Homo sapiens: one gene and its partners. The protein of the gene in region 1 purifies or fractionates together with the protein of each later gene. This does not show direct contact. Each region holds a gene or a part of one and is shown in the gene's direction. Other genes may lie near its edges.

Region 1 (7,025 bases):
TGACTAGTAAGGGTTATGTTCCTTACTTTATAATGCCAGTATGTGATAAGCTGTACTTTGCAGATGGAGTGGGCACTACTCAGTTCACTTTGTCTATTAATATTTGTAGGTGTTTTATTGATTCCTACACATTTTGACTACTAGAAGAATATGGGTTCAGCTTTTTTCAAAGTAGTTGTGATAAAATGGTTTATTTCTCTTCAAAGAATTTATGTAAATAAAACACAGTTTCTTTTATAAAAAGTGAGCACCGTGCTGATCTACTGTTCTGGAATTCTGGATGTCCAGGATTTTAGGCCTGCCAGTTTGTATTCATAAGGTACTTTTAATTTGCCACTGTATTGGCTAGTGTTGTATTTTAAAATAATTAGTAGAATTAAGAATGTGTATATGGGCTGGGCACAGTGGCTCACGCCTATAATCCCAGTACTTTGGGAGGCTGAGGTGGGTGGATCACCTGAGGTCAGAAGTTCAAGACCAGCCTGGCCAATGTGGTGAAACCCCGTCTCTACTAAAAATACAAAAATTCGCTGGGTGTGGTGGTGCGCACCTGCAGTCCCAGGTGCTGAGAGGGAGGGAGGCAGGAGAGGGAGGCTGAGGCAGGAGAATCGCTTGAACCCAGGAGGCGGAGGTTGCAGTGAGCTGAGATCACGCCACTGCACTCCAGCCTGGGCGACAGAGCAAGATTACGTTTCAAAAATATATATATATATTTATGTTCCATTTGTTAATATATTCCAATTGTATCACTGTTACAGGCTTTAGTCAACAATCCCAAAATTGAAGTAATAGATGGGAAGTATGCTTTCAAGCCCAAGTACAACGTGAGAGATAAGAAGGCCCTACTTAGGCTCTTAGATCAGCATGACCAGCGAGGATTAGGAGGAATTCTTTTAGAAGACATAGAAGAAGCACTGCCCAATTCCCAGAAAGCTGTCAAGGTAATCTCTCTTTTCTTTCTATGTCTTAATATAATTTGAATGAATAATGACTTCTTGGTTTTAAAAATATCAAACATTTTACAATTGTTTTTAAAGCTTCTATTATATACACATGGGTTACAGTGAGCCACTTGAAGGTTTGAAATTTGTCTTGTGCCACCTAGCAGGAAAGGGAGCAGCCATCTCTGTGTAACTTTGACGGGTTCTTGTTGCTGTTACTATATGATTGTTTGATTGTTCAGGCTATTTCTGGAAAATTTTCCTCAAAGGCAATAGAGTTTCTCTTGTAAGCTCTGTTTGTAAATAAGAGTGTCTTCTATAATACTAGTAGATGTTCCTTACCTGAGGAACTAGAGGCATTAAAACATGAAAGCATTGGTTAATAACCTGGCTGTTTTGAAGTCCTAAAGGGGCTATCTATGAAAGTCCTACTGATACAGATGACATTTCCAGTTTAAATTTGAAACTCACTGGGGAAAGCTGCTTGTTTCCATTTGTCACAGTTGCTCATTATTAATGTTAACTTGTTAAGCAGGTTCATTCATTTTGCTGCCTGTAGAAGAAAACTTGCCCCTTTGTCTCTTCTTCTTGGTAATGGAATTATACATGTCAGATCTTCTGGTATTGTACTACAAGTCCCTGAGGCTCTGTTTATTTATTTCAATTTTTTTTCTGTTCTATTAATCCATTGTCAAGTTCACTCACTTTTCTTCTTCACTTCCAACTTGTTAAGCCCAGTTGGTGAATTTTTTAATTGTATTTTTCAGTTCTAGTCTTTCTTTGTAAATTTTTCTTCTGGTTTCTGTTTCTTTGCTGAATTTTGTTTTCTTTTTTTTCCATTCGTGACAAGTATCTTTTGTTACACCCTTAAGTATGATTTCTTATAGCTGCTTTAAAATTCTTCTTATTCTAACAGCCGAGTCATCTCAGAGCTGGTCTGCATTGACTGTCTCTTTTATGGGTCATATTTTCCTGTTTCTTCATATATCTAATACATTTCTGTTGGGTCTTAGACCTTGTGGATTATATTAATATGTGTAAAGACTCAGGATTCTGTTACATTCCTCCCAAGAGTGTTTCTATTTGTTTTGTTTTGTGGTTAAGTGGGCAGTTACTCCAAACCTTGTCTGCCCTACAGCAGGTAGCATATGATATGTCTCTTCTGTTCTTCTAGCCTTAGCCCGTTTGCTTGGAATCTTGGAATCTTTTTCCAAGACTGGCTTATTTCACTTAGCATAATATTCTCAAGGTTCATCCATGTTGTACTTGCAACAGGATTTTCTTCCTTTTTAAAGCTGAATAATATTCCATTGTGTTTTTGTTGTTGAATTGTGGGAGTTTTAAAAAATATATTCTGGATATTAATTCCTTAACAGATACATGATTTGCAAATATTTTCTCCCATTCTGTAGGTTGCCATTTTACTCTGTTGATTGTGCTCTTTAATTTGCCAGTTTCTGAGTTTGCTGCACTCTTGTCTATTTTTGATTTTGTTGCCTGTGCCTTTAGTATCATGTTTAAATCACTGCCAAATCTAATGTCATGAAGCTTTTGTCCTATGTTTTCTTCTAGGAGTTTTATAGTTTTGGGTCTTAGGTATTTAGAGTTAATTTTTGTATATGGTGTAAGAGTCCAACTTTATTCCTTTTCATGTGGATATCCAGTTTTCTCAGTGTCTTGATGAAGAGACCGTCCTTTGCCCATTGAATAGTCTTAGTCTTGGTACTCATGTGGAAGATCATTTGACCATATATGTGAAGGTTTATTTCTGGGCCCTCTATTCTGCCTGTATGTCTTTCTTCATGCCAGCACTACAATGTTTTGATTAATGTAGCCTTTTTTTTTTTTTTTTTTTGAGACAGAGTCACACTGTCACCCATGCTGGAGTGCAGTGATGCAATCTTGGGTCACTGCAACCTCTGCCTCCCAGGTTCAAGCAGTAGTCCTGCCTCAGCCTCCTGATTAGCTGGGATTATAGGCACACACCACCACACCCAACTAATTTTTTTATTTTTGGTAGAGATGTGGTTTTACCATGTTGGCCAGTCTGGTCTCGAACTCCTGACCTCAAGTGATCTGCCCACCCTCGGCTTCCCAAAGTGGTGGCATTCCAGGTGTGAGCCACTGCACCTGGCCTGATTAATGTAGCTCTGTAATATATTTTGAAATCAGTAAGAGTGAGATCACCAATTTTGTTCTTTTTCAAGATTGTTTTGGCTATGTATTAGTCTATTCTTGCAATGCTATAAAGGAATGCTTGAGACTGGATAATTTATAAAGAAAAGAGATTGATTTGGCTCACAGTTCTGCAGGCTCTCCAGGAAGCATGATGCTGGTGTCTACTCAGCTTATGGGGAGGTCTCAGGAAACTTATAATCATGGCAGAAGGTGAAGGGGAAACAGGCTCATCTTACATGGCCGGAGCAGGAGCAAGAGAGAGTGGGGAAGGTGCCACACACTTTTAAATGACCAGATCTCATGAGAACTCATTATCAGGAGAACAGCACCAAGAGGGAAATCCACCTTCATACCAGTCACCGCCCACCAGGCCCCACCTCCAACATTGGGGATTACAGTTTGACATGAGATTTGATGGGGACACAGATCTAAACCATTTCAGGCTTTTTGAGGTCCCTTGAGATTTGATATAAATTTTTGGATGGATTTTTCCATTTCTGCAAAAAATGCCATTGGGATTTTGATAGGGATTACCTTGAATAGGTAACTTTGGGTAGTATTGCCATCGTAACTGTATTAAGTTTTTTAATACATGAGCACAGAATTCATTTATTCATGTCTTTAATTTTTTTTAGCAATGCCTTCAGGTTCTTTCATTTATTTTATGTATGTACAATTTGACTGTCCCTTATCTGTAATGCTTGGGACCAGAACTGTTTCAGATTTTGGGATTTTTTTCAAATTTTGGGATATTTTCATTATACCAGTTTAAACATTCCAGAGTTGAAAATCTGAAATCCAAAATGCTCCAGTGAGTATTTCTTTCTTTCTTTCTTTCTCTTTTTTTTTTTTTTTGAGGCGGAGTCTCTTTCTGTTGCCCTGGCTGGTGTGCAGTGGGGTGATCTCAGCTCACTGCAACCTCTGTCTCCTTGGTTTAAGAGATTCTCCTGTCTCAGCCTCCCAAGTAGCTGGGATTACAGACACCTGCCACCGTGTTCAGCTAATTTTTCTATTTTTAGTAGAGATGGGGTTTCACCATGTTGACCAGGCTGGTCTCAAAACTCCTGACCTCGGCCGAGTGCAGTGGCTCACGCCTGTAATCCCAGCACTTTGGGAGGCCGAGGCGGGTGGATCACGAGGTCAGGAGATTGAGACCGTCCTGGCTAACATGGTGAAACGCTGTCTCTACTAAAAAGTACAAAAAATTAGCCGGGCGTGGTGGCGGGCACCTGTAGTCCCAGCTACTCGGGAGGCTGAGGCAGGAGAATGGCGTGAGCCACCGTGCGGAGCTTGCAGTGAGCCAAGATCGCGTCACTGCACTCCAGCCTGGTTGACAGAGTGAGACTCCGTCTCAAAACAAACAAACTCCTGACCCCAAATGATCCTCCTGCCTCCCAAAGTGCTGGGATTATAGGTGTGAGCCATCACACCTGGCCCCCAGTAAGTATTTCTTTGGCATGTCATGTCAGCACTTAAAAAGTTTTGGATTTTGGATTCGAGATTTTGGGATTTGGGTTGCTCATCCTGTAGTTATCACCTTTTACCACCTTGATCTAGTGGACTATTATTTTTAAGCTACTTTAAGTCATTTTATGAATAATTTACATAAGTAAGAATAATGGGATGATGAAAACAGCTTTATTAGAGATTTTAGTAAGAATTTAACACAGCAAACTTCTGTATCAAGTAATTTTTGGAAAACACATCAAAAAGAAGAATACTGTCATATATCCTTTTAGCAAAGTGAGATGATAAAGATTCTTTTCACAAAATACTGTGTGATAATCTTCTGGTGAATAACGGGATGAGAATATTGTTTCCATTTTGTATTGAGAAGCATTTTGTTCGCTTGTTGATTCTTAAGCTTGAGAATCTTCACTTGAGTTATTGTCATCTAAAGACTCCATAGCTTGAGACTTTATTCCTATGATGAATTTTTGCCAGATAGTCTAGAGTGCTGCTATTTGGCTTTTTGCATTCATATTTTGATTCATCTAATAATTGTGAAATGTCTTTGGTCAGTTTTCTTGTCTTTGCTCTCAAGGGTAGAAAATACAAAATTTTTTTTGTCAGGTGTACTCAATGAAAGTTAAAAGACAACAAGAAGACTCTTCCAATCTTTTATATCTCTTGAAAAGGAGTAATGTAATCCTTTGGGCAATGCAGTAAGAAAACTGAAGGATGCCCATGTATTTCACTATTGCATCACATTTCTAGGTGATTTAATCATTCTTCTATTTTCTTATTATTTTAGCGTTTTAAAAGCACAATTGGAAATAATTGATGGGTAATGATGAGTAAGGAGCGAAATATCTCAAGGTAGAGGAAAAGTAAGAACACCAAGATTCTATTATGTGTCTTAGATTAGTGAAAGAGCCCCATGGACCCAAATAGTAATTGCAGCAAAGATTGAATTTTCCGTTTTAAGTGAAACACGTTTTATTTTTGTTCTTTGGAAGACCTCTAAGAATACAAGTCTGGAAATATCAATTTTTAAAAAATTGAACTACTCAAGAAAGAAACTCAAAAACTAAAATTGGGGCTGAGTGCAGTGGCTCACACCTATAGTCCCTGTACTTTCTGATGCTGAGGTGGGAAGATCGCTTGAGCCCAGGAGTTCAAGACCAGCCCTGGCAACATAGTGAGACCCTTTGTCTACAAAAAATTGAAAACATTAGCTAGACGTGGTGGCAATGCACCAGTGGTCCCAGTTACTCCAGAGGCTGAGGTGGGAGGATTGCTTGAGCCTGGGAGGTTGAGGCTGCAGTGAGCTGCACTCCAGTCTGGGTGGAGTCTCTTAAAAACAAAACTAAAACTAAAATTGGGTCCAGTGGACCTATGGTGGAGGACCCTATGGTGGTATACTGAGTGTGTTAAGGAAATGAAACTCCTTTATTGTTTAAATTTTTTTTTTTTTTGGTGAGGTAATTTGGAGTTAACTGAAAAATCTTTATTTTATCTATCTTTAAGGCTTTGGGGGACCAGATACTATTTGTAAATCGTCCCGATAAGAAGAAAATACTTTTCTTCAATGATAAGAGCTGTCAGTTTTCTGTGGATGAAGGTGAGCTTTTCTGTATTATACTTTAGTTTGCAAGTATATTACAATTTTAGGGTGGTAAAATTAATATTTATAATACAATTATAATTTAAATCTTATATTGCTTTTTTAGCATTATCATTTCTTAGAACACAGCCAGTGGCCCCTGTGTCTAACATATTGTTGCTTAGAATGCAATTTGAAATATGTGATTTGAAAGATTTTAGGTTAATTATACTTACAATCGCAGTTCAGGATTTCTTAATGTTTATAGCTCAACTGAACCAAACGGGTTTATTTCTTTATCTTTAGACTTTTACAAATGTAAGTTCATATCCTGATACAAAAGCTTGATACAGGATGGGAAAAAGAATAAACTTTTATTGGTGAATAGTGTTCTCTTATCTTATGAATCTTTCAGTTATCAAATTGAATAAGGAAGGAGATGATGTTTTTCTTTCTGGAAATTGTGGAGTTGGATGCTAAGCTGTATATTGAATCTCTTACTAAGTATATGATACGTATGTTTGGACTTTAGTTTTAAATTTTTGTCAATAATTTGTCATTAAACAAGGGTTTAGTGATGAAAAATGTATTATTCAAGTTTACCAATTGCCATTTTAGCAAGTGTTGGTGGTATTTTACTGTAAATTTGTATTACTTTTGAAGTTTTATAAAATGGCAGGAAAATAATTGGACATCAATTTAATTGATTTTGTGATTTGTGCAGTAACCTTAAGTTTTCCTTTTGTTATCTGTCTATAGATATCCAGGCTTGTGGTTCTGGTAGATAGGGCTTTAGTTTCCCTGAACTTGTTTTAGGAAATTGTATTTTTGTGAAAATCCCAATTGAGTATCTTACATGT
Region 2 (7,025 bases), on another chromosome or scaffold:
ATTTGAGAGTTTGTTTCTTTTGGATCTGAAGAACCTAGCTCTGCTGTACCCTGGTTCTTGTTGATTAAAGAGTGATAACTGAACAAAGTTAAAGTTCACTTTTGGATGTTTACTACCAGATGAAGAGTGAAAATAGTCGTTTTAGTTTGTGCCTTGACTTCTTGATGAAGAGATTTGTTGTCAGACATTTTTTTCTGAAATTCCAAGTGATTAGAATGGCTAGTAAATACGAAAGTCTGTCTTGCCATAATATGTTAAATTTTTGTAGCAGATACTTGTGATTTGTGCATGCATCCGGTATTTTGTCAAGTTGAAGCAAGCCTTTATGTTAGGACTAATTCCTGATAATATGAATGGAAAACATACTAAAGCCAGCTTCTTGTTTTAGATCTTCTGAAGTATATCAGTGGCTTTAATGACAAATCAGGCCCATTTTCTCCTTTCCTATCATTATGCTGTATGTATAGATAGAATATGTATTTTAGATGTTTTATTGTTTAGTTATTATTTTAGTCTTATCCTTCTAAAGTTCAGCAAAGCTTTAGGTAAATGGCGTGGATTTTTGAAATCCTGCATTCAGTCGCTAGCTGACATTTAGAATACAGGAATAGTAGTTTCCTGGAAAACAGTGACACTTATGTTAAATTCTTGTGGTTTTTACAAAGTGAGGTGTCAACACAGAAGTATTTCAGTTCTATTTCCATTTACCTTTCCCTTTTGAAGAGGTATAATACCAAGGGTTGTGAAGTTCTGACTTGTAGCATCAACTTTCTGCATGGTTTTCCTTGGTATGGGGTGGGGTGGGTATTCCTCTTTGCTGAAATAGAAGAGAATCATAAATTTCTATCTGGATTGATTTTGTGCTTTAAGTTGTACACATAAAACTTGAACTAGGCATTTGTCAAATTCAGCTGGGCCTTTCAGCCTTGCCTTGTGGAATGAGAAATATCTTCCTTTTAAAGGTAATTTCTGGTAACCTTTTAGAAATTTTTGAGAGTAGACCTGGTGAGTTCCCTTTGAGCTTAACTGGCTGACCCCAGATATGTCCTTCTCAAGATAGACATACGGTATCTTTTGAGTTTGCAAGGGAAGAGGCTGAGAGGAACCTTCTTACCTTATATTCAGGCATATGCCCTGGCCCCATACCTGACCTTTTGAATTGGAATCTCCAGTAGGGATCAGATGTTTATTACAAGTTCTAGAAACTAGAAAGTTACCCTGTTATGTGGCTGCTGGAGTCAAACCTGTACATAAATATTACAGTACTTCATGCTCTTGCTCATTGCTTTACTTGAAGCAGGTTTTTTTCTGTTTCACATTTTCCTTTGTGACCTGTTAAACTACTAGATATGGCTTTCAAATGAAGAATTTTTAAACTCCTTAGACTTAGTTAGGCTAGGCCAGGCGTGGTGGCTCACACCTGTAATCTCAGCACTTTGGGAGGCTGAGGCGGGTGGATCACTTGAGGTGAGGAGTTAAGAGACCAGCCTGGGTAACATAATGAAACCCCTGTCTCTACTAAAAATACAAAAATAAGCTGCGGGTGGTGGCGCAAGCCTGTAGTCAGTCCCAGCTACTCCAGAGGCTGAGGCATGAGAATAGCTTGAACCCAGGGAGGCGGAGGTTGCAATGAGCCTAATGAGCCTAGATCGCGCCACTGCACTCTAGCCTGGGCGACAGAGCGATACCCTGTCTCAAAAAAAGAAAAAAAAAAGAGGCTAGATTTCTACAACATGTAAAAGATTAATACAATGCTCTAGACTTTTGATTGTGTTGATTACATATTTGCATAGCTTTTTGTGGTAAAACCATCTCACTATTCTTTAGCAACTTGAGTAGTTGACTAGACGATGAATAGTTTGTCCTTTAGAAAATCACACAGATTTTTGAAATATGTTTTACTTTTTGGCGATGAATATTAAGGTCATTAGTTGTATTTTGGTCTTGGAAGATACTAATTTAAGATGAGCATCATTTGGAAAAGTAGTCGTAGGTAATCTTAATACTGAACAGTGGCAAATTTCTTCTCTCTCCGAATTAAAACATGACCTTTGAAAAAAAATAAAAAGCAAAAAATGACCTTTGAATATAGTTGTCTAGACATTTGGTCATATATGCTTGTGACTTGTTAATAACCTCACCAGTTTGGAAGAAATGACAGTGAAAGATGAGTGACCTGTTTTTATTTTGGGATATACTCTTAATATGTCAGGCATTTTTAGGGTGTTTTTAAATTTTATTTTATTTTATTTATTTAAATTTTACAAGTTTTTGAGAACTGTTGTGATGTCAGAGGAAAAAACACTTTCCCTTAATATTTTGTTAATATTTTGAGCTCCAGTGGAATTAGTCCTTATAGCAAGAACTCATACTTCATTTGTTTTGTGATGTTGGATGCTATTTTGTGCAAAATAAAATATATTGAAAGAATAATTGCAGTAATTTCCATGAGTACCCTTGAATTGCTATCTTAAGTTGTCCAAGAATTGTTATTGTGCGAACTTGTGCCTTTTCATCACAAATTTGGTGAGAACCTGGGGAAATAGACTTGTGTTACGGAGTTTTCTGGACTGGTTTAATTATAAAGTGATCAAAGCAATTAGCTGTGAAGCTGAGCTTTATGACTGTTTTAATTTTCAGTGGATTCGTTATTGGGCTAAGTTAATGACACTCTTGTAAATATATAATTATTTTGAGATACTCAAATTTGAAAGCAATACCAACTAAAAAGCATGTGTGGGATTTTGTTACGGTGTCTTTCTTTTTTTTTTTTTTTTTGATATGCATTCTAATGAAGTACTCTGGTGGTTTCAGACTCGCCTTCGTAATGTACAGTGTGGCCTGTGCGTGTTGTTTTGTGTTTCCTGCATTGATTTTTGCCTCCGTTTATTCTCTATTGCAGTCTAAAAGTTGGTTTTAATTGGTTGCCCACAGGATTGACTTGGCCTCTACTTCTTGTTAAGGAAATTCATCTCTTGTTTTATCAGGTAAGAGATTTTGAATAGAGAGTTCGTTTTTATACAAAATAAAATGAGATAGCTTATTAAGAAATATGAAAATATATGTAGCAACTATATTGTGTGTGTGTGTGTGTGTGTGTGTGTGTGTGTGTGTTTTTGTTTGCTTGTTTTTTGTTTTGAGACGGAGTCTTGCTCAGTTGCCCAGGCTAGACTCTGTTGCCCAGGCTGGAGTGCAGTGGTGCCATCTCGGCTCACTGCAACCTCCGCCTCCCGGGTTCAAGCACTTCTCTGCCTCAGCCTCCCGAATAGCTGGGATTACAGGCGCCTGCCACCATACCCGGCTAATTTTTTTGTATTTTTAGTAGAGATGGGGTTTTATCCTCTTGGCCAGGCTGGTCTTGAACTCCTGACCTTGTGATCCACCTGCCTTAGCCTCCCAAAGTGCTGGGATTACAGGCATGAGCCGCCACCCAGGCCGGTGTGGTTTTTTACAAGTTTATCTGAGGGATAGGGGTGGGGTAGATGGGTGCTTTGAACAGTTGTTCCTTTGGGGGTCAATTTCATTTATATGGATCTATTTATCTTGTGATTTTCCTGATAGGCAGTAAGTTTTATTCCTTAGTAGCATTTTAGACTAATTACAAATACAGATGCTTGTTATTGATATGTTTATTTATATTTCCTAAGAGTTTAAGTATAGATAATGGGTCACATGTTTTAGAGTACAAATTTTAGACTTTAAATGGAACCTTAGCAAGTGGAATCTAACCCTCTTGTTTAAGTAACTAAGATAGGCCCAAGTTAGGTTGAAATGACTTAGCTGTCAAACAGTTACTTAGTAACAGAAAAGCAGATACTTTTTTAAATTTTTTTTTAAATTTTTATTTGTTTTATTTATTTATTTCTTTTTGAGACAGAGTTTCGCTCTTGTTGCCCAGGCTGGAGTGCAGTGGCGTGATCTCTGCCTCCCGGGTTCAAGTGATTCTTCTGCCTCAGCCTCCCTAGTAGCTGGGATTACAGGCACCTGCCACCATGCCCAGCTAATTTTTTGTGTTTTTAGTAGAGACGGGGTTTCACCTTGTTGGCCAGGCTGGTCTTGAACTCCTGACCTCGGGTGATCCACCCACCTCATCCTCCCAAAGTGCTGGGGTTACAGGTGTGAGCCACCGCACCTGGCTGCGGATATTATTTCATATTTTTTGGAAGCTAGAAACAATTTTTCTCATCAGATGGCTTTATGAATAAATCTTGTATTCCACTTTGGTTTAATATTCAGCCCTTTCCAGCTGGTAATCTGAGGCAGATTTTCAATAGCATATTCTCATGTGTACCTTGTACAAACTTTCAGTAAATCCCTGCTCTTAACAGAAAATGGCTTGAAGACTTAACTGTGTATGTCACTTTAGCCCTGTGTTTAATTTTTGTGTTCTTGGGACTATATCAAGTTTCTGTTTGATTGTCCCAGTGCAAACTAGTCTCTCTCTCTCTCTCAAGTTGTTTTGAGTACCTGGATTGCCCATGATGTTTCCCCTATACAAAGTGATTAACCGTTTTTTGAAGTTGAACAGGAAATGCTATCACATTTTGCATACAGCCACATATTCTAGATTGAGCAAGGAATGTGAATTTGATTTAATGACTTGGAAACTGCTTGATGAACCTCCTTATAGGCTGCTAAATAGTAAATGAGAAAAGAGACTGTTGGTGTGATGTTTTTTAGCGTTAATTTTTCTTGTTGACTCTTGAAGTTTGTAAATGAAAAGCTTCCCCACACTTCCCAAATTTCTAGTGCTTTATAATGGCCTCACAAAAAGCATTTTCTGTTTGCTAGTCCATTTTTCTGGATTAAATTTGAAGGTGGCTTTTTATTTTTGTGTATGTGTCTGTGAGAAAACTGTCAAAGCCAAGCAGTTTGTTTCTTGTTTGTATACGGCAGTTGTAATATTGAGATATAATTACAGATTTTGTTGCATTAGTATTTATATAATATTTGACAATGAAGTTACAGAATTCTTAGAGCTTATAGTAGAAAATCTTGCCCCTTCTAATATTCTTGAGAAGTGATAAAACCAAATCTCTTCATTAATTTATAACCTTTCTGAGGGTCATGAGCTGATTTTATGGGCTTATATTTAAAAGTTGACTTTTCAGGTGGGGCGCAGTGGCTCACGCCTGTAATCCCAGCACTTTGGAAGACTGAGGAGGGTGGATCACCTGAGGTCAGGTGAAATCCCATCTCTCCTAAATACAAACACTTAGCCAGGCATGGTGGCGCATGCCTGTAATCCCAGCTACTTGGGAGGCTGAGGCAGGAGAATTACTTGAACCTGGGAGGTGGAGGTTGCCGTGAACCGAGATCGTGCCGTTGCACTGCAGCCTGGGCTACAAGAGTGAAACTCTGTCTCAAAATAAATAAATAAATAAAAGTTGACTTTTCAGATGGGTTGGAAAACACCCTATGTTATTGACCACCTTAATTTCAAAGTAGTATGTTTCCCAGGCCCAATAATTCGGTTTGTGTCACTTTCCAAAGGGCTGCCCTTGAATTTGCTCTTAGAAGCCTTTGGAACTGAAATACTGAAATTTGAGGGGAACATTTCTTTTTTGATTATGTCAAAACAGGCATGATCTAAGGAGATCACAGAGATCCTGTAGGAGTTGTGTAGGTCCAAGACTGTAACAACCACTGAGTAATTCACACTCTGGTTCTAAAACAAAAACAAAAAATATTTTTATTGTCAGCCCTCTCCTAGGGGAAAATAATACTTTAAAAAATTTTATTAAATAGAGGATTTGGTTATGAGTCATTGGACCTGAGTTTTAATTAAAATAGTCACAGTGAATGGGACTATAACCAGGTTCTACTTTTGGGGGTAATGAATCAAGGTAACTCAGATTTTAGCTGTCCTATTCAGTAGTTCTTTTGGCTTCTTAGTATGTCTTAACCTTGTTTATAATAAATAATTCCATATGTAGTTTTTTGTAATGTACAAGGCAGATTGAAAAGTTTTAGGATGAATAAAATAATGGAACCAGTTCTCATTTAAGACTTGAATCTACTTTTAGTCTTAAGTATTATTTACAATTCATTAGTATTCTAGTTTTTTGCTTCTGTTGGATGGATTTTGAGACTGAGCTCTATAAAATCACACTCTTGATAATTCTATGAAATTATCAAGTATATAGGGAAGATGCTAAGCCAGTTTTAAATACTAACTTCTATATATTCTTTGCATGTTTTTTCCCTATAGATTGTTAAACTTTGTTTCCTGATTTGACTTAGACATTTCTTTTAAATCTTACTGAATGATTAGTGGTCTGAATGATGTATATGTATTTTACTGTCCTACAGTTGTTTTTTCTTGAACTTTTTGAGTCTTGGGACTGAACTGTTTCCAAAATTAATGCCTTCTGGAAGTTGAAATTGTCTACGTTTTACATTGTAAATGGCACGTAATGTTCAGTTTTTAGAATATCTAAATTAAAGACATTGCCTGTGATAGCTTGAGGGAATATTTGAGGGCCTAATATGGTAGCTGGTCATTCTTGTAGCTAAAAACTTGGTGTGATAAACAGGAGTCTGACCTGGCCGTTGCCTTTTCTCATCTGCAGGTGTGTGTGGTTTCAGCGCAGCATGGCTGTGGTCATCCGTTTGCAAGGTCTCCCAATTGTGGCGGGGACCATGGACATTCGCCACTTCTTCTCTGGATTGACCATTCCTGATGGGGGCGTGCATATTGTAGGGGGTGAACTGGGTGAGGCTTTCATCGTTTTTGCCACTGATGAAGATGCAAGGCTTGGTATGATGCGCACAGGTGGTACAATTAAAGGGTCAAAAGTAACACTATTGTTGAGTAGTAAGACGGAAATGCAGAATATGATTGAACTGAGTCGTAGGCGTTTTGAAACTGCCAACTTAGATATACCACCAGCAAATGCCAGTAGATCAGGACCACCACCTAGCTCAGGAATGAGTAGCAGGGTAAACTTGCCCACAACAGTATCCAACTTTAATAATCCATCACCCAGTGTAGTTACTGCCACCACTTCTGTTCATGAAAGCAA
Region 3 (7,229 bases), on another chromosome or scaffold:
GAAGTACATGGACAGGCAGACAGATACACACACACCCAGGGCCTCAGAACAGTCTTCAGGGCAGGGACAAGGCCTTGGCAAGGCGAGTCCAGAACCAAGATTTGGTGCAGGGGTTGGTGTAGTCGCAGACAGTGATGAACCTCAGGATGCTGGGGAACTCTTTCTTCATTGCCTTGTACTTGATGGGGATCAGTCGCTTCTGATGGGCACCTGCAAGCCAAGGGGTGCCATGCTGGCATCAGGCCCTTGCCCCATGGTGGGACAAGCCCAGTCTTCAACCCCAGGGTTAACAACAGCCATCCCCCATCTAAGTACCCCTGGCACACATTCACTCACACAAAAAGGCACACACATGCACACATGCTCAGGTGTGCAGAGATCTTCAGCAGTTCTTTGGTACTGCATCCACAGTCCTTGGGGAGGGAAGGCTGACAATCCAGAGGCCCCACCTACACATTCCCTCATTCTCTTGCCAGAGCAGGGTTGAGCTTACCTGGAGAGAGGCTGAGTGCAAATTTGGTCTGGAAGTCACATTCCTTGCTCTGCAGGTAATCATCAGAGACAACCACCACCATCCGGCGGCACCTAGGGGAGAGTGGGCAGGCTGCAGGTCCTGTGGCAACTTAGTTCAGCATATCCCCTGGGAATAGCTTCAGGAAGGGCCCACTGTGCCCAGGCTGGACAGTGCACAGCTAGGAGGAGATGCCCAGTATCTGGACCCCAGGGCAGGGCTTCATGCATCCACGCACCCACCCCGTGGCCTTCTAGCCAACCTCTTTTCGATGAGCTCACTAGCAATAGACCAGACACAGGTGCCAGGCAGGACATCGCGGTCAGACACACACAACTTCAGTCGATAGTTTGTCTGTTCCAGTTGCCGGATCATCTCCTGCACAAACTGGATGTCGCTGGGGCAATAGCAGATGAAGGCATCGAAACGCTCAGGCATATGCCCTGGGTGCAGAGCACAAGGGTGGTGGTCAGAGCTCCATGGGAAGGCTTGGGAGGGATCCAGCCAAGAGTCCCCTGCCTAGGCAACCCTGGGCCCTGCACCCTTCCCAAGATGATACTCCTCAGAGAAAGTGCCCTTTCCAGGAGAGGAAAGATGAGTACCTCAGGGGCTAAGCTCTGGATTAACCACGAGACAGACATTATTTCATGAGCATCTCACAGCAATCCAGAGGTAGGACTATTATCTCCATTTCTTAGGTGAGGAAACTGAGGCTCAGAAAGATTAAGTGACTTGCCCAAGGTCTCACAGCCCATCTGCTTCAAACACCCATGCTCTTAACACCACAATGTCCTATTCCACCTGTCCCATGGGAACAGTATTGGACCCTTACCCAGGGGGTCATCAAGTGTGGTGATGCCCGCCAGCTCTGCTGTCCGTGGGACACTGCTGTCTACAGCGGCCACCTGTAAAGGCTTCTCAGCCTCCTCCTGCTGCTGCTTCAAGATATACTTTTGGCAATCCTCCTCTGTGGGGAAGAGACAGAGTAAAGCAGCCTCCCTGGGAGTGCCTACCTCTTTACCCACAGTCAGGATCCAGCCGCTGTCCCACCTCCTCTGGCTGGGTTGTTCTAGAGGGCTTCCCCAGTTCACTGGTGCCACGCGAAGCTCAACGGCTCTGAGAAGTTGAGCTCCCACTGGCTCTAACTGACCCAAAGGGATGTCAGTGGTGTTCTGGCTTTCTGGAAGGCCATCAAAGTCAGGTTTGTATCTCTGTCCCTTCCTAGGGATCCTAAGAATGGTACCAAGGTAGGTCTGCTTCTTCTGGGATCCAGGGCAGATGTGAGCAAGGGGCTGGGCATGCCAGAAAGGCTCAGGAGACCCACTGGTTATGGTGCAGTGATTCCAACTCAGCAAGGTGTGCCTGTCTGTGGGCGGCTGTATCCAACGCCTATGCATGTATATTATGTAAGTGCCAGTGAGTAGAAAGAAGGGCTGCATTTCCCCAGGACTTGAGGTTTCTAAGACAGTCCACTGTCAATCGCCCCACCTGTCCTGTTGCTCTACTTGAAACAGCCCAGATGCCCCCACAGAAGCCTGATTCTGACTCCTGGCCCTACCTGAAAGCCTCTGCCTAAGCTGCTTCCTTCCCATCTCCGCCTATCCGGACCTTTCTCCAGTCCTTCTTAATAACCGCGACCGGTTATTAAGAAGGAACGGGACCCGCATGGTTCTCCCTCTGCAGGCTTCTTCGGGCCCCCGAGGCAGGAAATGGGGTCTCTCCATGGGAGACAGGATGCTGAGGCCGCGGAAAGTCAGCCTCCTCACCCCCCAGGTACGAGGCCAGGAAGGGGACGTCCTCACCAATGCTGGGTCCCAGCTCCAGCAGCACGTCGTCGCGGCCCAGCTTGGTAAGCAGCTCGAGCAGTCGGCCTACAGAGGCGCCAGGGCGTCCCTGCCAGGCGTCCAGCAGCCTGCCAGTGGGGTCCGCTTGTGTCTCCAGTTGCCGGATCTCCAAGTACTCAAAGTCCATCTCCTCCGCCAGCGCGGTCCAGTCGGCCGCCACCTGTGTCCGCACGTTCAAGAACAGAGACAGGCGGCGCCGCACTCGCATGTTGAGAGCAGCCAGGGGAAGGGAGGATGTGGAGGAGACCGGGGCCGCAGACCCCGCGCCGGGACCTCCTGCAGCCATGGCGGGCGGTCCTGGAGCCTCAGCGCGGTCGGGTCGCATTGTCTGCCAGCGCTTCCTCTTTCTCCTGCGGCACCCGCCCCGCCCCGCCGGCTTTCGCTTTCCGAGAAGCGCCGCCCTGCCCTACAATCTGGAGCCCCGAGCAAAAGTGCGGAGGCGGGGGTGCCCACCTCTACCCTTGAGGTCTCGAGGCGGGTGATGTGGGGGGCGTAAGAAGTAGGAATCTGCCTTTTGAGATCTGGAGAGGTCCACGGCACCGCCCTCGAGGGTCTGGTGATGGTGCTAGTAGGTTGGCGGCGGAGTGAGGACGACCCTCCTTCGGGGGTTGTAGGAAACGGGCCTTGCTTTTTGGGATCTGGTGGAGCCACAGTTCTTCCACGGAGGAATCTGAGGGGTTCATACGGTCCTGCCCTCGAGGATGGCGAGGAGGGGACAAGTGGGAAGGCACCAGCTCTGCCCTCCACTGTCTCTGGGGAACACGCAATCCTGCCAGTAGGGGTATGGGAAGACCCCTGCTGTGCTCCCCGAGGTGGGAGTGGGAAACGGACAGCTGCCTTCTGGAGCCTGAGGCATGCCGTGGCCCTGCCCTCGAAATGGTTGGGGACGTCATGACACTAGGTTGGGGAGCACAAGGCACCCTGTCCTTTGGTGTCTGTGGAAAGCCCAGCACTACTCTCCAGGGTCTCAGGTGAAGACATGGCCCTGCTATTGGGAGTCAAGGGGGCACGTGGCCTTGCCCTTTAGGTTTAGGGACACAGTCCTGACCTGGGGAGCCCTGGTTCATTCATTTACTCATTCGACAAGTACTTATTGATCATCTACTAAGTGTCAAGGGTGTCGCAGGCTCCCCGGATACATGGTACCTCTCTGCCTTGGTGGAGACCCCAGCCTAGCACGGGAAATGGGCACTAATAAAATCATTCCAATTGGGTGTAAAACTGGTAAAAGTGTGAAATGTTCATTCTCCAGTTAGAGAGCTTGTCACACCCCGCATGTCTGTAAAATCTGTTCTCCCGGCCAGCCCGGAAGCCCAAATTCCCTGTCTTCTCGAAAGAATGGGAAAGCCCAACCACGTCGGAGCAGGACTCGGGCGTCTCGGAAGTATTTAGGTCCCCCAGCTCGGGTACTGGGACCGGAGGGATAGCAGAGCCTCCTAGGAAGTGGGTAGAGGAATTAGAGCCTCGGCTTCCATCTCCAGCCCCCAAGCAGTAAGCGGTCCTGGCTGCCCAGCCTTCCGTTTGGCTGCGGGCAGGAGACAGGGATTTGGGGGTCAGGTCTCGGGTTTGGCTACAAAAGGTGGAAAGACTTCCGGTCTGCATTTCTGGGCGGGGATTCGTAAAGATACACCTTCTGGTTGGCTGCGGTAGGCCAAGGTAGGCGGGGCATTGAGTGGAAAGCTCGGCTGGGCGGTGCCTGTGGGCCCTCCTATAGAGGGCTTGGTAGGCGGTGGCGGGGAGGGGCGGGTTCCCAGGCCGACTCTCCTTGTGGTTGGCTGAGGCTGGAGGTGGACGGGACTTTTGGAGGGTCGCTCGCGTCTGTTCGCAGAGCTGTGGGCGGAGTTGAGGCCTTGGAGGCTGAGATGTGGTTCTGCGCGTGTGCGGACGGCTGTCTGTTAACTCCGCGGTCAGTTCCCGGACTGGTGGCTGGTCTGCAGGGTTGACCTGCGCAATGCAGAGGCTGCAGGTAGTGCTGGGCCACCTGAGGGGTCCGGCCGATTCCGGCTGGATGCCGCAGGCCGCGCCTTGCCTGAGCGGTGCCCCGCAGGCCTCGGCCGCGGACGTGGTGGTGGTGCACGGGCGGCGCACGGCCATCTGCCGGGCGGGCCGCGGCGGCTTCAAGGTGAGGCCCGAGGGTCTGGGCGCCGAGTGTGGGAAGACGCCGGCGCGGGCTGGGGTCCGGTTCGTATGTTTGGTTATCCTGGACGCCGGAGGCAGCTCCGCACCCAGCTGTGGTCGCTTTGTCTCCCTGGGGTGGGCATGGGGGAGTGGGGGTCACTGCGGCTGCTCTTTCTGCTGCAGGACACCACCCCCGACGAGCTTCTCTCGGCAGTCATGACCGCGGTTCTCAAGGACGTGAATCTGAGGCCGGAACAGCTGGGGGACATCTGTGTCGGTGAGCGAACCACTCAGGCCCTGCGCTGGGCCTTCCCCGTTCTTCCGTTCGTCCAGAGCTCTCCTCACCTCCCCGCCCCGAATTTTCACTGGGGGAACCTCCATGGCCTTGACCTTTGAAGGGGTCCTGCCCCTTCACACCTGTGGGTATTTCTCGTCAGATGGGAGGAGAGACTGAGAAAAGAAATAAGACGCAGAGACAAAGTGTAGAGTGGGCCCAGGTGACCGGCATCGGTCTCCGAGTTCCCTCAGTATTTATTGATTACTATTTTCACTATCTCGGCAAGGGGAGTGCGGCAGTGTGGGGGAAAGGAAGAGAGATCAGACTGTTACTGTGTCTGTGTAGAAAAGGAAGACAGAAGAAACTCCATTTTGATCTGTACTAAGAAAAATTTTTCTGCCTTGAGATGCTGTTAATCTGTAGCCTTAGCCCCAACCCTGTGCTCACAGAAACATGTGCTGTATTGAATCAAGGTTTGAGGGATTTAGGGCTGTGCAGGATGTGGCTTGTTAACCATTTGTTTGCAGGCAGTATGCTTGGTAAAAGTCATCGCCATTCTCCATTCTCGATTAACCAGGTACACAGTGCACTGCGAAAGGCCGCAGGGACCTCTGCCCAAGAAAGCCTGGGTATTGTCCAGGTTTCCCCCCACTGAGATTGTCTGAGATATGGCCTAGTGGGAAGGGAAAGACCTTACAGTCCCCCAGCCCGACACCCGTAAAGGGTCTGTGCTGAGGAGTATTAGTAAAAGAGGAAGGCCTCTTTGCAGACACCCGTAAAGGGTCGGTGCTGAGGAGTATTAGTAAAAGAGGAAGGCCTCTTTGCAGTTGAGATAAGAGGAAAGCATCTGTCTCCTGCTTGTCCCTGGGAATGGAATGTCTTGGGTGTAAAACCCAACCATACATTCTATTTACTGAGATAGGAGAAAACCGCCTTATGGCTGCAGGTGAGACATGCTGGCGGCAATACTGCTCTTTACTGCACTGAGATGTTTGTGTAAAGTCAAACATAAATCTGGCCTATGTGCACATCCAGGCACAGCACCTTTCCTTAAACTTACTTATGACACTGAGTCCTTTGCTCACATTTTTTCCTGTTGACCCCCTCCCCACCATTACCTTATAGTAATGGTATATAATGCCACATCCCTCTTGCCAAGATAGTAGAGATAGTGATCAATAAATACTGAGGGAACTCAGAGACCAGTGCTGGTGTAGGTCCTCAATTGCTGAGCACCAGTCCCCTGGGCCCACTTTTCTTCCTCTATACTTTGTCTCTGTGTCATTTCTTTTCTCAGTTTCTCGTCTCCACCTTGCGAGAAATACCCACAGGTGTGGAGGGGCAGGCCCTCTTCAGGCAAAACGGGGTGAACAGGGTGATGGTGGGGAGAAGGTCAGCAGGAAAACATGTGAGTAAAGGAATCTGCATCATAAATAAGTTCAAGGGAAGGTACTGTGCTGAGATGTGCATGTAGGCTAGATTTTTGTTTCTCTTTACCCAGACATCTCAGTGTAGCAAAGAGTAACAGAGCAGTATTGCTGCCAGCATATTTCGCTTCCAGCCACAGGGCGGTTTTCTCCTATCTCAGTAAATAGAACCAATAGTCGGCTTTACACCGAGACATTCCGTTCCCAGGGATGTGCGGGAAATAGAGGCCTTCCTCTTTTACTAATCCTCCTCAGCACAGACCCTTTACAGGTGTCGGGCTGGGGGACAGTAAGGTCTTTCCCTTCCCACGAGGCCATATCTCAGGCTGTCTCAGTGGGGGGAAACCTTGGACAAATACCCAGGCTTTCTTGGGCAGAGGTCCCTGCGGCTTTCCACAGTGCATCATGTCCCTGGTTAATAGAGAATGGAGAATGACGATGACTTTTACCAAGCATACTGTCTGCAAACATATGTTGACAAGGCACATCCTGCACAGCCCTAAATCCCTTAAACCTTGATTCAATATAGCACATGTTTTTGTGAGCACAGAGTTGGGGCTAAAGTTACAGATTAACAGCATCTCAAAGCAGAAACAATTTTTCTTTGTACAGATCAACATGGAGTTTCTTATGTCTTCCTTTTCTACATACACACGGTAACAATCTGATCTTTCTTTTCCCCACAATCTTCAGTCCAGCCCTCTATTCCACCCCTCACCTTGAAATACAGCAATATGATATGGCAAGAGTCTTATCCAGCGGATGCCACCCCTAGGTCGGCAATCACTGTTCCACCTCTCTGGGGTGACAGCAGGGCTCACAGGAGGATACCTGGGGAGATGTGCATTTTCAGAAACTCCCATTTCACTTTTAAGGGCAGACAACCTGCCCATCTGTGCTGATTTGGAAAAGCTGGGTGCATGGGCAAGTGAGCGTGGGACCCTCAGGGACAGGAGCTGGTGGATGACCAGGACAAGCTGTTGTATGGCTGGCTCTCCCTGCCCCAAACCCTGATGTTCCAGAGTTGCAAGTGAGCCTGCCAAGGGCTAGTG
Region 4 (7,025 bases), on another chromosome or scaffold:
CTAGAGTTAGATTCCTTAAAAAAAAAAAAAAACCTTGTATTATACCCTCATTTAAAACAAAGCCATTTTGGAATCTCAACTGCTTTTGTGTAAAAATTAAAAAAAAAAATTGAATGGTATATATGAGGCCATTTGCCATCCAACTCTGGCCTCCTTATGTAGCCTCAGTTCTCATCATTTCTTATGTCCATAGCCCCTTCATCCCCACCTTTCATCCTTTGCCTCCCCTTGAACATTTCATTCTTACACTCACCTAGATGTTTCAGGTCTTTTTGCCAATACATGCCTTTACATGTGGCGTTTCATCTTCCGTCAGGCTTCTACCATCCGTCATCTGTAAACTCCTGCTTCATCCTTTAAGATCCAGTCGGGTCTTGACACCATTATGTTTTGGAAAATCAACTGATTTAATTCTGCGCGCCCCCTCCCCCCACCACCTCGTATTTATGTGTGTTTGCCATTGTGTTAGGGCCTGCAGCTTCAGAGGTGAGTAAGGCCCAATCCCTCCTAAGAGTTATTTAGGCTTTTTGTCTCTTTGCTGTTATAGCAATTTGCTTAGATCCCCTTAATAGCACCTGAAATATGTATTTTAGTGTTTCTGTTTAGATAACTTTTTCCTGGTTAACTTAAAAATCTTTGAAAGCATGTATCAAAATTGTATGACATGTGCTTGTAATGTTAAATGTTTTTGTTGAATGGAAAAAATATATATGGGCATAATGAAGGAATATAATTTCCTCATAGAGGGAAAAAAAAGGTTTGAGGAGGTTACGAGTAGTTTCATAAAACTCTATTTTTACATTCACTAAAATTTTATTACCTCTCTTTCAGTTAGCTTTCCCTCATTCCCCCCAAGTTGGGTTTTGTGTTTTTACATGTTTTTGTATGCTTTCATAGATAGTGTCCTAACCTCTTTTTTTTTTTTCCCTCAAAGACAGGGTCTCACTCTGTCACCCAGGCTGGAGTACAGTGGCACAGTGGCAGGATCACCACTCATTTCAGCCTCAAACTCCTGGGTTTAAGCAAGCCTCCTGCCTCAGCCACTGCAGTAGCTGGGACCATAAGCATGTGCCACCATACCCAGCTAATTTTTTAATTTTTTTGTAGAGACAGGGTCTCACTGTGTTACCCAGACTGGCCTGACCTCTATTATTTGTTGTCCTGTTTTGTCATCATCTCTCTACTTACTTTTTCTTTCCAACCAATAGTAACCTTTACAAAAGCAAAGATTGTCTTATTTATATTAATCATTATATTCTTAGAATAAAAGTCACTGGTTAATATTTATTAAATCTTTATTTGCTTAAAAGAATATTTTCAGTACCTTTCCTGAAATTTTAAGTCAACTCATTAACTTTGTGTTGTTTATGATAGATTGCAAACTTCCCGCCATTTGTTCTGGTCCTCTCTGCAAATGTCCTACCTTTTGTTCTGGTCCTCTCTGCAAATGTTTGGCAAATCTTCCAACCTTCACTAACTCCTCTACCTTACTGGTTACATTGAAGACATACACTAACTTAGATTCTTGACATTTTGGGAAAAGCTTTGGGCAATTTCTGTTTCATCCAGCCAACATAGCCCAGTAAGCATTTCCCAGTCTCCCACCCCAGGACCCAGGATTTAATACCGAAGCTCTTACCGATACTAACTGCCCATGCTTTCAGTCCCTCTTTCCCATGTGAAGCCTCCCCCTTCTCAGAGATGAGTGATATAGTTCCATTGTTAGCAGTTCAGCTTCCTCCTTTCCTTTACTTCTCCCAAAACACCATGGCAAATCCTCAGGGGGTTTGCCTTTTTAAAACCCTCCTCTGACCCTACATTTCTGTTTTTGTCTTTTTATGTCTAGTGAAGTGGTTTTCTTTATCTAATATTAAAGTAAGAAATTCATGGATAGGATAATTGCATGTATAATAATTTGTAATGAAAATTTGTGTGTGTAGGAGAGAGATCCTTGTAAGTAAAGCATGTGGAAATAGGTGACAAATAAGCCATTAAATCCCATTAGGCTTTTTTCCTTTGCTAATATATTGATAATGAGGTTTCTAATGAGAGATCTATCTGACTTGTTAGTGCTCTCTTGTTATTCTTGATCTCAAGTCACTCAGGTTTGCTTATTGAGGTGAAGATAGGTGATTTGGGTTCTTAGTGCTACTGTATATCTTTCAAATTTCATATTGGAATACATTTTAAAATAGGTGATTTTCTTATATGATTAGTACATGACCTAGCTAGTTTTAATTTTATAAAGTAGTATCAACTTAATTTTGTTTCCATTTTTATTTTGGTAGATTTTCTTACATTTTTCTCTTTTTTAATTATATTTTTGAGACATATAGCCTATCTCTTCAGAATCAGTATCTGATTTAAGTTTTATAGTTGTATCAGGGTTTGGTATGATTCCCACAGTGATTTTTTTTAATTATGACTTTGAGTTTTCTGAGTATTAGAATTCTTATTTGTTACTATTATAGGACAGTTCCCAAGAAGTAAACATCCAACTTGAGAATTACCATACATGAAAATAACAGCTGTGCCTGGGAGGCCTTTATGACCCCTTCAGCTATCAGGCCCTCAGTTGTTCCATGGCAACAAGATTGAAATGAGATTTGGGGTCCACCAACCACCCATTTGCTTTGTCCGGTAAAGGAAAAAAAAATGTGTGCTTTTGTTTTCTCCACATCGAGAATTTCCCTCTCCTTCTTCAGGGTATACCTTAATTACAGAGCTTGGAGGTTATTGCAGAGGAAATACTTGTGTTGGGGTGAGGGGCATGTTGGTCAGAAAGACCCAGAGCAGTGGACATTAAGCTTTGTCGTAAAGAGTGTGAATTCTCCAGGTGGAATTGGAGTCTGAAGACTGTGCTCTTCCACTTTACTGACAGTTTCTACGGTTTTTATGTTTCTGTTTCTTTCTTGAGGATGGAGTTTTTTTGTTTTTTTGTTTTTTTGTTTTTCGTTTTTTGTTTTTTTTTCAGTCGTTGTGTCTCTGTTTTCTGGCTGATTCCTGCTGGTAACTCAGTACATATTCCTGAATGCAACAAATTCCCTTTGGAAAGCCAGCCAAGAAAGAGCCCAGAAATTATTTTCCCACAAAAATGTGTAAAAATATATATTGTTACTTGTAGCAATCATGTTATGGCTCAAATGAAAATTTGTGGACTGGCAAGAAATCAAACCTTTGAAAATCAGTCTTAGTGCTAAGTAACTTGTGTCTTGTAATTCAGTAATGAAGTATTCATTGAATGCCTGACAGGCACTGCTAGGTAGTGGGTATATGTATGTTCGTGAATAAAGTAGACATGGCTCTTGCCTTCATGGAGCTTTCTATTCTAATAGGGGGAACAGATGAAGATCACCTACTTGTATCATTAGAAATAGAATTATGTTCTGTGAAGGAAATGAGGTACAGTGAGAAAAAATAATCCAGTTTAGGATGGCAGCTACCTAAAGGAGGTCATCGAGGAGGCCTTTCTGCAGGAGGGACTTTAATAGAAAACTGAGAGAAGATAGAATCCTGTGGAACAACTGAAGAGATAAAGAATTCTAGGCAGAAGGAACCTGTTTAAAAAGTCATGAGGCAGGAAAAAGTTTGGCATGTTTCAGGAATTGAAAGGAGGTTGGCGTGGTTAGACTCCTGAGTAACGGGGTGGCAGGGGTCAGATGGTGCGAGGCTTTTTATGCGAGTATTCTGAGTGCTCCATGAATACATTGATGGGCTTAAAGGAGAGGACTGATAAAATACAGCTTGTTTTAATACAGGTTGAGTATCGCAAATTCGAAAGTCTCCAATGAACATGTCCTTTGAACTTCATGTCCATGATTTTGGAGCATTTGGAATTTTCAGGTTAGGGTCACTCAGCCTGTATTACTTTTGATGGGGCCAAGAGTGGAAACTGAGGGACCACTTAGGTAATTCACCTCATGGAGGCAAGAGATGGTGGTGGTTTGGAAAGTTAGGATAGTGGTAGTGAAAATGCAATGGATTTGAGCTCTCTTCTAGACAAAGAATTAACAGGATTTCCTGTTAGCTTCGCTGTGAGGAGTCAACTGAAGTAAAGAATCAGAGGAGGATTGTTAAGTTTCCAGTGTGAACAGCTGGGCGTGGGGATTCCTGGGATGGCAAAGCCTGGAGAAAATCAGGTGGTGGGGGGCATGTTAAGCTTGAACTTTGTTGCGTTTGAGGTGCTAGTGTGGCATCCAATAATGGTGCCATTAAATGGTACCATTACTACTAAACATTTTTTCCCCCTAAAGCTCTAAACTTGTCCAGCCCACAGCTCACCATCTTTAGATCTTTTCTCAAATGTTACCATCTCAGCAAGGCCTTCCTTGACCAGCCAAACTTATGTTGAAAACCCCACACTGACCATCTCCCTTCCCTGCTTAATTTTTCTCCATAGTTAATTTTCACCATCTGACATGTTCTTTTTTTTCCCTAATACCCAGTGTGATAGCACATCTGACATGTTCTTTATTTTACTTTGTTATTAACTGAACTGCTTTCTCGCTATAAGATCGTCAGGGATTTTTGCGTATGGATCACTGCCATATCCCCAGCACCTAAAATAGGGTGTGGTCTATAGTAAATGCTCAGTAAATATTTGTTTATTGAATATATGAAACGACTTGAAGGATTCTGTAGTGTTTCCACGATTAAATTTTCTTACTAGTATTTGTTCAGGCTTTTGGCTTAAAACAGTTCAGTTCTCTTTTTTAAGTGAATGTAGATTTTGTATATACACACACATATATATGTGGATTTGCATTGTTTAGGAATAAAAACCTAAAATCTACCATTCATATTTTAATTTTCTTAATTTTCAGGTTACAACTGATGGAAAACCAAAAATCGTTGATATCATTGATACAACAGGAAGTGGCGATGTGAATACTGCTACAGAAGTAGAGCCAAAGGATGGTGAGATTGTTGGCCTTTCAGGAAGAGTGCTTAAGGTGAGACCTTTTGTCTTCTTTTTGAATTTTTTTTTTTTTACTCTTGCCTCAAAGCATCTAATGTTTTTACCTTACATTTGGTGGTGGTATTAGTTATCCATTGCCACATATCAGATTACCTCAGAACATCCTGGTTTAAAATGACAAATATTTATTACCTCGGAGTTTCTGTGAGTCAGGAATCTGGGTGTGGCTTAACGGGGTTCCAGTCGCCCTGGAGGTTGCAAATGGTTAGCCATGGCTGTGACTTCAGCTGAAGGCTCAGCTTGGGAGAAGAAGGGGAAGTTTGTTTCCAAGCCTACTGGTGGGTCACTGGCAGGCCTTGGCTCCTTGCCATTGGGCCTCTCCGCAGTGCTGCAGTACCTGGCAGCACCTTCCCTGGGGGAGTGAGCCGAGAGAGTCCCCACGATGAAAGCCACAGGCTTTTTATAAAAGTGACCTTCTAAGGGACCACCTATCACTTGACTATATTGAGCTCATTGGAAGTGAGTTAATAAATCTAGCACACACTTAAGGGGAAGGGATTTCACAAGAAATGAATCATTGGAGCTGTCTTAGAAGAAGCCATTATTTTGTTGTTTGATGAGGTAATTAGAATTGGGCGGTATTTTTCAGTGAGCTTGCCAAATTTTATGTTTTGAATACAAAGATAGAGAAAGTAACCACATCATAGCTTTGCCTTCATGTTTTACTGTCCCTTCATAGTATTCCCAGTTAACTTGACCATGAAGAAATACTTAGGCTATAGTAGCTGTTAACTTAAATGGCCAGCTTTGTCTTTTTTTTTTTTTTAAACTTCTTTTTTTCTTTTTTTTTTCGAGACATAGAGTCTTGCTCCGTTGCTCAGGCTAGAGTGCAGTGGTGCAATCTTGGCTCACTGCAACCTCCGCCTCCCGGGTTCTAGCAATTCTCCTGCCTCAGCCTCCCAATTAGCTGGGATTACAGGTGCCCGCCACCACGTCCAGCTAATTTTTGTATGATTAGTAGAGACAGGGTTTCACCATTTTGGCTAGGCTGGTCTCGAACTCTTGACCTTGTGATCCGCCTGTCTCAGCCTCCCAAAGTGCTGGGATTATAGGCGTGAGCCAGGGCACTCGGCCTACCAGCTTTGTCTTATTCTATGTCCTTGGTAGAAAGGCCTGGGTAAGCTAAACGTAAAAAATAATTATAAAGCAAGCACAGAGGAGCTCATGAGCTAAGGAGCATGAAGGATGGATGGCAAGAATTTGTGATCCTGTACTCTTAAGCAGCATTAGTTTGGAACATAAAATTATGGTTATTTAGTTAGCTTTTCCCACCTTTTGCCATCTATCTGAATTGTTCTTAGGTCTTGTCTTTTAAGTAAGCTTGTTGTGGCAGCATATTGGCTTTCTGTGCCGTGTAATAAAGCACCACAGACTTAGCCGCCTAAAACCTTGTGTATTCCTGTATTTATTATATCACTGATTCCATGGGGTAGGAGTCCAGGCATGGCTTTTTGTGGGTCTCTGCTCAGGGTCTCACAAGACTGCAGTCAAGATTAAAGGCTCAGCTGAGGCTCAGGCTTCTTTTCCAAGTTTACATGATTGTTGGAAAAATTCATTTCATTGCAGCTGTAAAACTCATGATAGCTTGCTTCTTCAAGGCCAGTAAGAGAATCTCTGACCTTGGTGATGACCCCAGTCTTTCTTTTAAAGAACTCACCTGATTAGTTCAGGCCCGCTGAGAATCATGTCACTTTTGATTTGCTCAGAGTCCTTAATTGCGTCTGCAAAATCCCTACACCTTCTTTACGTACCATAACGCAATCATGGGAGTGACATCTCATTATATTCACGGGTCCTGCCTTCACTTAGGGGAGGGACGTGGGTCTTCTTAGAAATCTGCCTGTCATGGGCAGATAGCAGCCATTAATAATCCAGGTTCTACTTCCTTTTCTGTGTGTTAGGAACTGATTATCTGTGTCCCCACCCCCTGCCAAAATTCATACATTGAAGCCCTATCCCTCTTTGTGTTGGTATTTGAAAGTTGGGCCTTTGGGAGGTATTTAGGGTTAGATGAGGTTATGAGTATGTGTCCCCTCAGGATAGGATT

What was found.
Region 2: the proteins of GTF2E2 (region 1) and RBM12 purify together in Homo sapiens (affinity purification with mass spectrometry; 2 studies listed by BioGRID and IntAct, with this or other methods). This does not show direct contact.
Region 3: the proteins of GTF2E2 (region 1) and ACAA1 purify together in Homo sapiens (affinity purification with mass spectrometry; 2 studies listed by BioGRID and IntAct, with this or other methods). This does not show direct contact.
Region 4: the proteins of GTF2E2 (region 1) and TPP2 purify together in Homo sapiens (affinity purification with mass spectrometry; 2 studies listed by BioGRID and IntAct, with this or other methods). This does not show direct contact.

Annotation. Positions count from the first base shown.
Region 1 is NC_000008.11:30,606,215-30,613,239, reverse strand, and holds part of GTF2E2 (transcription initiation factor IIE subunit beta), read left to right. Parts: intron 1-758; coding exon 759-941; intron 942-6,089; coding exon 6,090-6,183; intron 6,184-7,025. UniProt on the Homo sapiens protein: Recruits TFIIH to the initiation complex and stimulates the RNA polymerase II C-terminal domain kinase and DNA-dependent ATPase activities of TFIIH. Both TFIIH and TFIIE are required for promoter clearance by RNA polymerase.
Region 2 is NC_000020.11:35,654,892-35,661,916, reverse strand, and holds part of RBM12 (RNA-binding protein 12), read left to right. Parts: intron 1-2,902; 5' UTR 2,903-2,987; intron 2,988-6,572; 5' UTR 6,573-6,594; coding exon 6,595-7,025.
Region 3 is NC_000003.12:38,134,113-38,141,341, reverse strand, and holds the start of ACAA1 (3-ketoacyl-CoA thiolase, peroxisomal), read left to right. Parts: upstream 1-4,214; 5' UTR 4,215-4,306; coding exon 4,307-4,477; intron 4,478-4,656; coding exon 4,657-4,750; intron 4,751-7,229. Other genes in the region: myeloid differentiation primary response protein MyD88, read right to left, coding at 56-210, 494-585, 750-954, 1,344-1,478, 2,314-2,641. UniProt on the Homo sapiens protein: Responsible for the thiolytic cleavage of straight chain 3-keto fatty acyl-CoAs (3-oxoacyl-CoAs). Plays an important role in fatty acid peroxisomal beta-oxidation. Catalyzes the cleavage of short, medium, long, and very long straight chain 3-oxoacyl-CoAs.
Region 4 is NC_000013.11:102,599,970-102,606,994, forward strand, and holds part of TPP2 (tripeptidyl-peptidase 2), read left to right. Parts: intron 1-4,823; coding exon 4,824-4,952; intron 4,953-7,025. UniProt on the Homo sapiens protein: Cytosolic tripeptidyl-peptidase that releases N-terminal tripeptides from polypeptides and is a component of the proteolytic cascade acting downstream of the 26S proteasome in the ubiquitin-proteasome pathway.